2 separate regions of the Homo sapiens genome follow, and region 1 is linked to region 2. The links come from fine-mapping of genetic effects on gene expression. A gene starts in region 2. The other region holds a variant in brackets. All regions are shown on one strand. Distances are from middle to middle.

Region 1 (4,395 bases), 34 kb before region 2:
TGCTTATTAATATCAGTGTATCTTCATTAGGAAGAAGCTCAGGGCTAACAGGATGTCACCAGACACATCCACCTGCACTCCCTTACCTTGGGCATGACAAGCGACAGCGGGCCGTCTTCATATTCCCTACTTTGCCTTTTAGTGGCTGGCTCATCCTCCTCCTGAGGTTTCCTCTCCTCACAGAGGCGCTTCTGAGCTGAGGGTGCAGATGACAGCTCTACTGTGGCTGGGGCTTCTGAGCTTCTGTCATCCCTCTCTGACCCTGACCCTGACGCTGGTCCCTCCTGCAGACTTCCATACAGCATGAACAGTGAGGCAGAGGGCACATACACTAGAGGCTGGCCAGCAAGGAGTGCTGGCTTCAGGCTCTCCACAGCAGAGGCTGCAGAAGCAAGTGAGACATCCACTTGTCCATTCAGACCGTTCTGCATGGAGAATGCCTGCAGGTCCGTCTGAGCAACAGAAAATACTGGGTGGGCTAAAGGATTAACACAATATTCTGGGTCAACAGAGAGGACAGGGAAAGGAGCAACAGGGTCCAAGCTGCTTGATGGAGGCACCACTCTCTTACTGGCAAAGGCTTTTCCCCTATAATAAAAAAGAAACGTAACGAAGTTAGCACATTCTACCAACTCCTGACCCTTTACTTTCCCAAAGACAGCCATGCCAAATCAAGAATGAGATAATACTCCTCAGGCAGATACGAAAGCGCACTTGCTGAGCACGTGTTAGCTCATCCCAGAGTTAGACGCCCAGGTATGGCCTGGATAAATGGTTAGGATGGGGTGGGAGAGCCGAAGTGGGAAGAGCCATTGGAATCTCAGGTGAGAGTGAACATTCATTCCTCCTTCATCTCTTCCACATCTGATAGTTATCAATTATCAAGCACTTACACCCTTGCCAGGCATGTACATACTATTATAATTAGCATTAATAGTATAACAATTTTATGCAATTATTATAATAATAGCTACTCTCATTTCCCCAGTTTACTAGCGAGGAAGACTGAAGCGCAGAGGTTGATCACCCTGCCTCGGGTGAGCCAGCTCTGAAGTGAGAAGCTGGGCCCCATGCCCACATCTGTTTGATGGCAAAACCCATGTTCTCAGTGACTGTGAGAGACGCTGGGAGAGTAACAGAGACTGGACTTTGATTTAAAAAAAGATTAATCTCATTTGTCTCATTTCACAAATCCAGTATGAAAGAAATGAAGTGGACAGTGAGGAAACAAACTTATCTTCTAAATTATTATTTTCTGTCATTCTTGTCCCATTCTGCTCGGTGTTATTAACAAAATTTTAGGCAGCACACAATCAAAATTAAGTCCCATAAATGTACAAGTTTATAGGCCAGCAGGGTGGCTCATGCCTCCTGTGGGGGGCCTAGGAGGATTGCTCGAGCCCAGGAGTTTGAGGCTGCAGTGAGCTACGATCACGCCACTGCACTCCAGCCTGGGTGACCCTGTCTCTAAAATAAGAAAATGAAATAAATAAGATATAAACAATGTTTGGGCCTTTTGTTTGGAAAAATTTCCAAATATTTAAAACCATGTTTATGTTCTTAGTATATTTTTAGGAATAGAGAAGAACGATCCTTTAAGAAATAGGAACAGAGGGCCAGGCGTGGTGGCTCACGCCTGTAATCCCAGCACTTTGGGAGGCTAAGACAGGTGGATAACCTGAAGTCAGGAGTTCAAGACCAGCCTGGCTAACATGGCGAAACCCCGTGTCTACTAAAAATACAAAAATTAGCTGGGCATGGTGGCACACGCCTGTAATCGCAGCTACTCTGGAGGCTGAGGCACAAGAATCGCTTGAACCCGGGAGGCGGAGGTTGCAGTGAGCTGAGATCATGCCACTGCACCCCAGCCTGCGCAACAGAGTGAGACTCTGTCTCCAAAAAGAAAAAGCAAAAAGCAGAAAACAAAACAAAACAAAATAAAAACACACAACAAAAAAAACAGTAAACAGAGGACCAGGATTTCTTTCCGTCTTTCTGATGGAATCATGGAAGACCTGTTTTGCCTACCATCTCACTGCCTACTGCGCTGCTGAGAATAAAATGCAGTACCCTGGGCCGCAGAGATGAGTCATCTCTCCAATCAGCTGCCTCTGGTTGAGTAATGGGTATTGCTCAGCTCTGTGAAACTGAACATGCCCACCCTGGGTATATCACCCACCATCCCTCCACCCAGCCATCCACCTTCAACTTCTCCAT[C/T]TCCACCAATGACATCACTATCACCTGACATGCAGACATTCTTTCTGATGCCTGTCTCCTTTAGCGAGCCCTGCCAACTCACTGTCTCACACTGGTTTCCCTTTCTTTCCACCTCTGGTGAGCACAGCTCAGCTCTGCCCTACAGCAGACCAGAACGACTACAAATGCTCTGTTCTGTGGCCTGTCTTTCTCTACTCCTAATCCCACCTGCAAAAAGTAGCCAGGATGATCTTCATCAGTGAACCTCCAATAGCTCTTTATGGTTTCCCTGATGAATCCAACTCTTCTCTGGCTTTCAAAGCTTTTTGCCAACTTGACCTACTTGCCTCCAACACCTAACCTCTTTTGCTGAATGATTTTTCCTTTTCCTGTCCTGTTTGGACAAACCATGACAGCAAAACGAGCCAGGCTTTGGTATCTTCTGCTCCCTGGCCCTGCCTTGTAATCTGCTTCTTCCCACATCTGTTGTTAAACACTTTTCTAATTACTCTGTTTAGCGTTTCTTCTGCTTTCTCTGGTGACACATGATTTCTTTCAAAATTGGGCCCCAAATTTAAGTCAGACAGCCTGGGTATGAATCCCAGCTTTGTCACCTATTAGCAATGTGACTGGGCAAGTTACATAACCTTTTTGCACTTCAGCTTCCTCTCTGTAAAATGAGGGTAATACCTCTCTGTAAAACCTCAAAGGATTGCTCTTATGATCAGATGAGTCAATATACACTAAGGCTCCTGGAACGGTACCTGGTAGTTAGTGGCAAAACCAACTATGATAATGATGAAGTGATTCATGGAACTCTGATACTTCATTTCTCAGGGTCATGTTAATTATGAATTGTCTCTTTTCCGTGTTGGTCTTTTTATCTTGTTCCTATAAGCCATCATAGCTTACAGGATACATTTTTCATACTTTTGTATCCCTGATGCTACTTCCTGCACAGTGTAGGGCACAAAGAGAAAACTTACCAATTCCTAACAAATAAACGGCTGACCTAAATTTTTTCTTTTGATGGGTGGCACTGCAATTTAGTCAAAGTTAACACTAGGAGATAGAAAAGAATACACTCTGAGCTTTTATAGACTACTTACTGTGAATTGTCTTCTATTTTCTGTCTATAGACAGCTGCCAGGCTTCCAATTTCTAAAGAGTAGCCACCTGATCCTGAAAAGGAAGATGAAGGCTTAACAAATATAGCAAGAGACTTATACATACCAACTATATACTGAGAATTATCTAGCTGAGAATTCATTATTCTCAGCTCAAAGATTACTCAAATCTGTTATGGTTTTGATTCAAAGAGAAATTTTCAGTAGCTAGCTGTTCATGAATTCAGGTCTCATTAAGAATTCAAAATAAGCCTGGGCAACACAGGGAGACCCCGTCTCTACAAAAAACGAAAAATTAGCCAGGCATGGTGATGCACGCCTGTGGTCCCAGCTACTTGGGAGGCTGAGGTGGGAGGACTCTTTAAGTCTGAGAGGTCAAGGCTGCAGTGAGCCGTGATCATGCCACTGTACTCCAGCCTGGGTGACAGAGTGACCTTTCTCTCAAAAGAAAAAGAAAAAGAAAAAAGAAGTATTTAAAACAAGCATTGCTTTAAGTCTAATGAATTTCTGAGATACATCAAATAGGGTCAACTATGCCAAACCAATTGGTCTACAAGGTGACTAGGATCAATTTTAGGCAAGGGGTCATGTTCATAGACTGTGATATCAGCATCTCCTTTGCTTCCAATAATTGTTTCACTTCAGCTAAGTAAAAAGTAGACCACTGGAAAAAACAGCCAGGGCTGAGAGTCAGTTTGTTTTAAAACGCCAGCACGTGGGTGCTGCACTGGCATGGGCTACAGCTACATGGCAACTGATGGACTCCATAGATTATGCAAGGGCAGATACCTTGTTCTTCTCTGTACGGGCTGCTCGGTTCTGAGTTCACTTTCCTCTGGATCCTCTCAGAAGCCTGAACTGTGTTAAAAGAACCATGGCGAGCCAGCTTCTGTTTTGCACAGACTTGAATCTGGCCATATGTTTCTCTTTTCAATTCTGGTAAGACAGATGCAGAAACATCCACCAGTTCTTCATCTACATAAACGAGAGAATTGGTAGTGTTGTTATACAGCTGTAATTCAGGATAATTTTCGTCTATTTAAGAGATGGCTTTGAACCTATAATTGTAATG
Region 2 (4,395 bases):
CTAGATGGGGGAGCATACAATTTCGCATCTATCCTAAATTAGCAATTATCAAGTATTCTTCAAAGGCTCATATGAGCCTGGGTTGCTTTGCAACCAAGGAGTTTCACTGTTGATGCTAAGCCTAAAAATAAGACCAGGAGCTCGGAGAAGTTCAATGCCCAAGTTGCTACTCACAGATTTATATTCAAAGTTTCTAAAACTTGGTTTGTTATTTCTATTTGCCTGTGCCTAAAAATGCTCAGATAGTTTAGACATTGTTATGGCCAGTTTACTTTGTAATGTTCTTGAAAACAACATCTTGGTCTTACAAATCACAAGGGGTGCAAAATGTAAGGGAATGGCTCAGTGCAAAACTAGCAACAGTATGGTAAAATATTCAGAATATACTGATGAGTTCAGCCACTTTATCTCCCTATATAGTAGGCACAGGTCTACTCTTGGGTGAATGGAACAGTCTCTGGGAGCTAGTTCATTGGTATGAAGACATTTCACAGCACTTTAATAATCCAGCATTTATGCCTGCAAAGGTCTATTTTCCTGGGAACTGAGGCTTAGCATTCCTACAGAGCACTAGCTACACCACCCTTGACAACTGTATTATAAACTTTGATTGCTGTAGCCAGCATATTTTTGACTTATATAAATTGGTTACAACATTACATGTAACCTTGCCTATTTTTCCCACTATATCTGAGAGTAGAATTCCAACAATAATGGTTTGGATGGCTCTATTTTTAAAAAAGAATGTTTCTATAATGTTTATCAATATTAATTATTATGCTTAAATACAAATACAAATGGCATGTTGGAACACTTAATTGAATTCAACATCACCATCCTTAACATATTAGAAACTAAGGTGTTTATGTTTGCTTACCTTTTGTGCATTTTCCCCATCTTCAACTGCAAAATCTAGTCTGGGCTGCCTGGGGCTGATCAGGTCTTTTAGTGTTAAACAATTTACCTCCATCTGTAATGCACAATTACACTAGAAAATGATTTTGCAATTAGGTATTTTTTCCTCAAACAAAAATATCTACATATGTGTTACTTGTTTGTCAATATGAAATTCCCCCTTCTCTAAGCACATCCTGGGCATTTCCAGGAGTTGTAGCCACCCTCAACTTTCTAAAACTCACGCGAACAAACTCAAACACCTAAAGTGTGCTTAGTAATACTGAAAATCTGGGAAGAAAAAAATCTACAAAAATAGTAACTCCTTATGAAAAGCTAGATGGCAAAATAAAGTTACCAAGTCGGAAGGGTGTTGGGCAAATCTGTCAGAAAAGTACAGGGTCTCCCAGGTCAGTTAATTTTGGCGCAAAGAACTGAGAGGAATTCGGCTTTGAGGGGTTTTGAATCGGGGGAAGGAAACCCGATCGCTAGACCAAACCCACTCAGCGCTGAGCGCAGCCCCTTCCCAGGCCTCCAAGCAGATCCCCCAAATAAACTTCTCCAATGAAAGCTCCAAGTTGTGGGGAAGGGCAAATCCCCTCTACTGCCGGGCCGGAGTGAGAGCTGCACCCGGCACACCCTCTGCGCACCGGGTTCCCCGGCAGAAACACCTCGAGCCCTCGCCAGCCGGGGGACGTGAGGAGTGGCAGGCTGGCAGCCGGGGCGGGAGTGGGCCCTGTATCCCAATTCCCGCCTCCCCACTGGCGCTGGGGCCGCACGCTTACCCCTGCTTTCCTAAGGAGGCTTCCTGCCTCTGCAGGGACCTCCACGGACCCAAGCCGATGAGGGAAGGTGGTGCGGCGATCAGCAGCCGGGCGGCGGCATCGGGAAGGGAGAGCGAGGCGCGCAGATCCCCGCGCCGAGTGCCCTGGGCTGGCGGGGACCCCGCGGCGTCCGGGCAGCGCCAGCGCTCAGACCGGCCGAGCGCAACTCCAGCCTGGATCGTAGTCCCCGCTAAAACACCTCCTCTGGCGCCTTGAGACCGAATTTGAGAATCCACCAATCAGCGGCGGCCGGCGGGGCGGCCCCGGCCAATCGTGCGGCGGCACGGCCCGGGCTCACCGCCCCTCGGAGTCTTGGCGCTCCGAGCCGCGCGTTTTGCCCTCACCCGCCCAATTGTTGCCGCCTCGGCCCCCTCCCCCTTCCGGGTACCTGGAAACCTCGGGCCCGGGAGCCAATTCCTGCTGGGGACGCGGGCCCCGGCGGCCGCGGGAAGCCAAGGTGGGGGCGGCGCGGGGCGGCGCGGGGCGGCGGGAGAAGGAAGAGGAGGAGGAGGGCTCTTTTGTTATGCATAGAAGACCCGCGCACGTCCCCGCGGCTTGCCGCGCCCGGGGACCCCGGGCACAGCCAGAGGACAGGAAAGCAGATGGGGTTTGGAAGAACGATCTACACCCTCTGGATGCTGCTGCCGCCATCCCCGCCCGCCCTCAGCAACCTGTGCGGAAGCGGAGTTGTCCAGACTTGCCGGGGCAAACTTCTTAACATCGCACGCTGGTGTGACACATGAACCATGGTTACCGCTCTGCTGCGAGCAGATGGCACGCCAGTTAGCCCTGGAGACAAGACTGGAAGCCAAACCAGAAGTTTTTCTAACTTTTTTTTGTTTGTTTGTTTTGTGTGTGTGGCAAATCCGGAAATGTTTTTTGGTGTTCCCTTTTCGGCAAATTGCAAATAATTAGGAGGGAAAAAGCTTTATATAAAAAAGTAGTTCTTTGCAATAGGGACTAGCATTCTGGGAGACAGTCTAGAAAATTTCCTCAACACCACTGATCTGTATTAAATGTTTCACTTCTTTCATCCTACAGTTTCTTGTTTAAAATATGAATGTTGGTAGAGATGGACTTTTTACAAAACAGACTTTATTGTTTAGAAGTTTTCAATTTACAGAAAAATTGAGATAGTACCAAGAATTCCCATATATTCAGCACCCAATTTCACCCACTATTAACATTTTGTGTTAGTATAGAATATTTTTTGAAATTAATGATCTAATATTGGTACATTCTTCTGAGCTCAAGTCATTACTTTATTCAGATTTACTTAATTTTTTCCTAATGGCCCTTTTTTCTGTTCAGGATACCACATTACCTTTAGTTCCTATGTCTCTAGGCTCCTCTTGGCTATGACAGTTTCTCATACTTTCCTCATTTTTGATACCTGGACATTTTTGAGTAGTATTGGTCAAGTATTTTGTAAGATATCCCTCAACTGAAATGTGAGACAGCCTTCTTAAAGCATCAGACATTCTTAAATGTACAGACATGTCCCTACCCCCCATCTACTTTACAGCAAAGGTATCATTTTCCTTTCTATACCAAGACTCCATTCTTCACCACTTACCCTCCAAATATTTTTATTTTATTTTATTTTTGGAGACGGAGTCTTGCACTGTCACCCAGGCTAGAGTGTAGTGGCCCAATCTCGGCTCACTGAAACCTCCACCTCCTGGGTTCAAGCGATTCTCTGCCCCAGCCTCCCGAGTAGCTGGGACTACAGCCGTGCGCCACCACGCCCAGCTAATTTTTGTATTTTTAGTAGAGATGGGGTTTTGCTGTGTTGGCCAGGTTGGTCTCGAACTCCTAACCTCAGGTGATCTGCCTGCCTGCCTTGGCCTCCCAAAGTGCTGGGATTACAGGTGTGAGACACCGTGCCCGGCCTCAAATACATATATTTTAAATGAACTCTCAGCAGAATTCAGAATGCTCAATCAAGTCCTTCACTTCGTACTCTAGATTGCTGGTAAATACGGCCTAAAAAAAAAAAAATCACTGCTAGGTCATACATTGAAAAGAGAAAAGTATGCAAAACATTAAACAAAAGAAAATAGTAATAAAAATCTGACATTTTTTATAGGAATAACATTTTGAACTGAAATCTCTTTTGTAGGTAGAAACCTAATGAGAAGTTTAAACAATAAAAAATTGCAACTTATTAAATTTTGCACATATGTGGAAGCAGAAGTTTAGATAAGGAAATACTTTTCCCAACAGTATTCATTTTCTATGGCTGTTGTAACAAATTACAACTGGCTTATAAGGACAGAGATTTAGTCTCTCACAGTTCTGGAAAGTTAAGGTATTCCCAGGGCCACACTCCCTCTGGGGCTCTTGTCCTTTTCCTCTTCCAGTTTCTGGTGGCTGTTAACAGTCCTTGACACGTGGCAGCCTCACTCCAATTTCTACCTCCATAGTTACGTTGCTTTCTCTTTTGTCTGTTAAGTCTCTCCTGTGTGTCTCCTATGAGGACACCTGTCAATGAATTTAGGTCCCACCTGGATAGTCCAGGATGATCTCATCTTGAGATCTTCAATTTAATTGCATCTGGGAAGATCCTCTTTCCAGAGTAACATTCCTTCATGGGTTCTGGGGATTAGGACATGGATACACCTTTTTGGGGCCCACCATTCAGCCTTCTAGACCAACATTCAAATTATTAAAGTCC

Alleles and levels. Alleles are on the strand shown, and positions count from the first base shown. SD is a standard deviation of normalised expression in the study named.
As copies of C replace T in region 1, the expression in monocytes of the gene that starts at base 1,904 in region 2 goes down (large effect, 0.88 SD a copy in Quach 2016).

The links. PIP is the estimated chance that this variant, and not a neighbour inherited with it, causes the effect.
Region 1: its variant is the best candidate, but not a certain one, in a credible set for the expression of E2F7 in monocytes (Quach 2016, PIP 0.87).

The regions. Positions count from the first base shown.
Region 1 is chr12:77,029,745-77,034,139 of GRCh38, forward strand. It overlaps E2F7 (E2F transcription factor 7), which reads right to left. Exons shown (of 13, transcript NM_203394.3): 8 at 4,113-4,298; 9 at 3,306-3,378; 10 at 87-588. Among named protein-coding and RNA genes, the nearest start is that of E2F7, 34 kb to the right of the region's middle. RefSeq lists an enhancer at 2,308-3,507. The variant C/T (reference allele first, on the strand shown) is at 2,218.
Region 2 is chr12:77,063,666-77,068,060 of GRCh38, forward strand. E2F7 (E2F transcription factor 7) reads right to left here and starts at 1,904. Exons shown (of 13, transcript NM_203394.3): 1 at 1,680-1,904; 2 at 878-970. The coding sequence starts at 970. RefSeq lists silencers at 1,744-1,793, 1,814-2,243 and enhancers at 1,852-2,558, 2,294-2,523.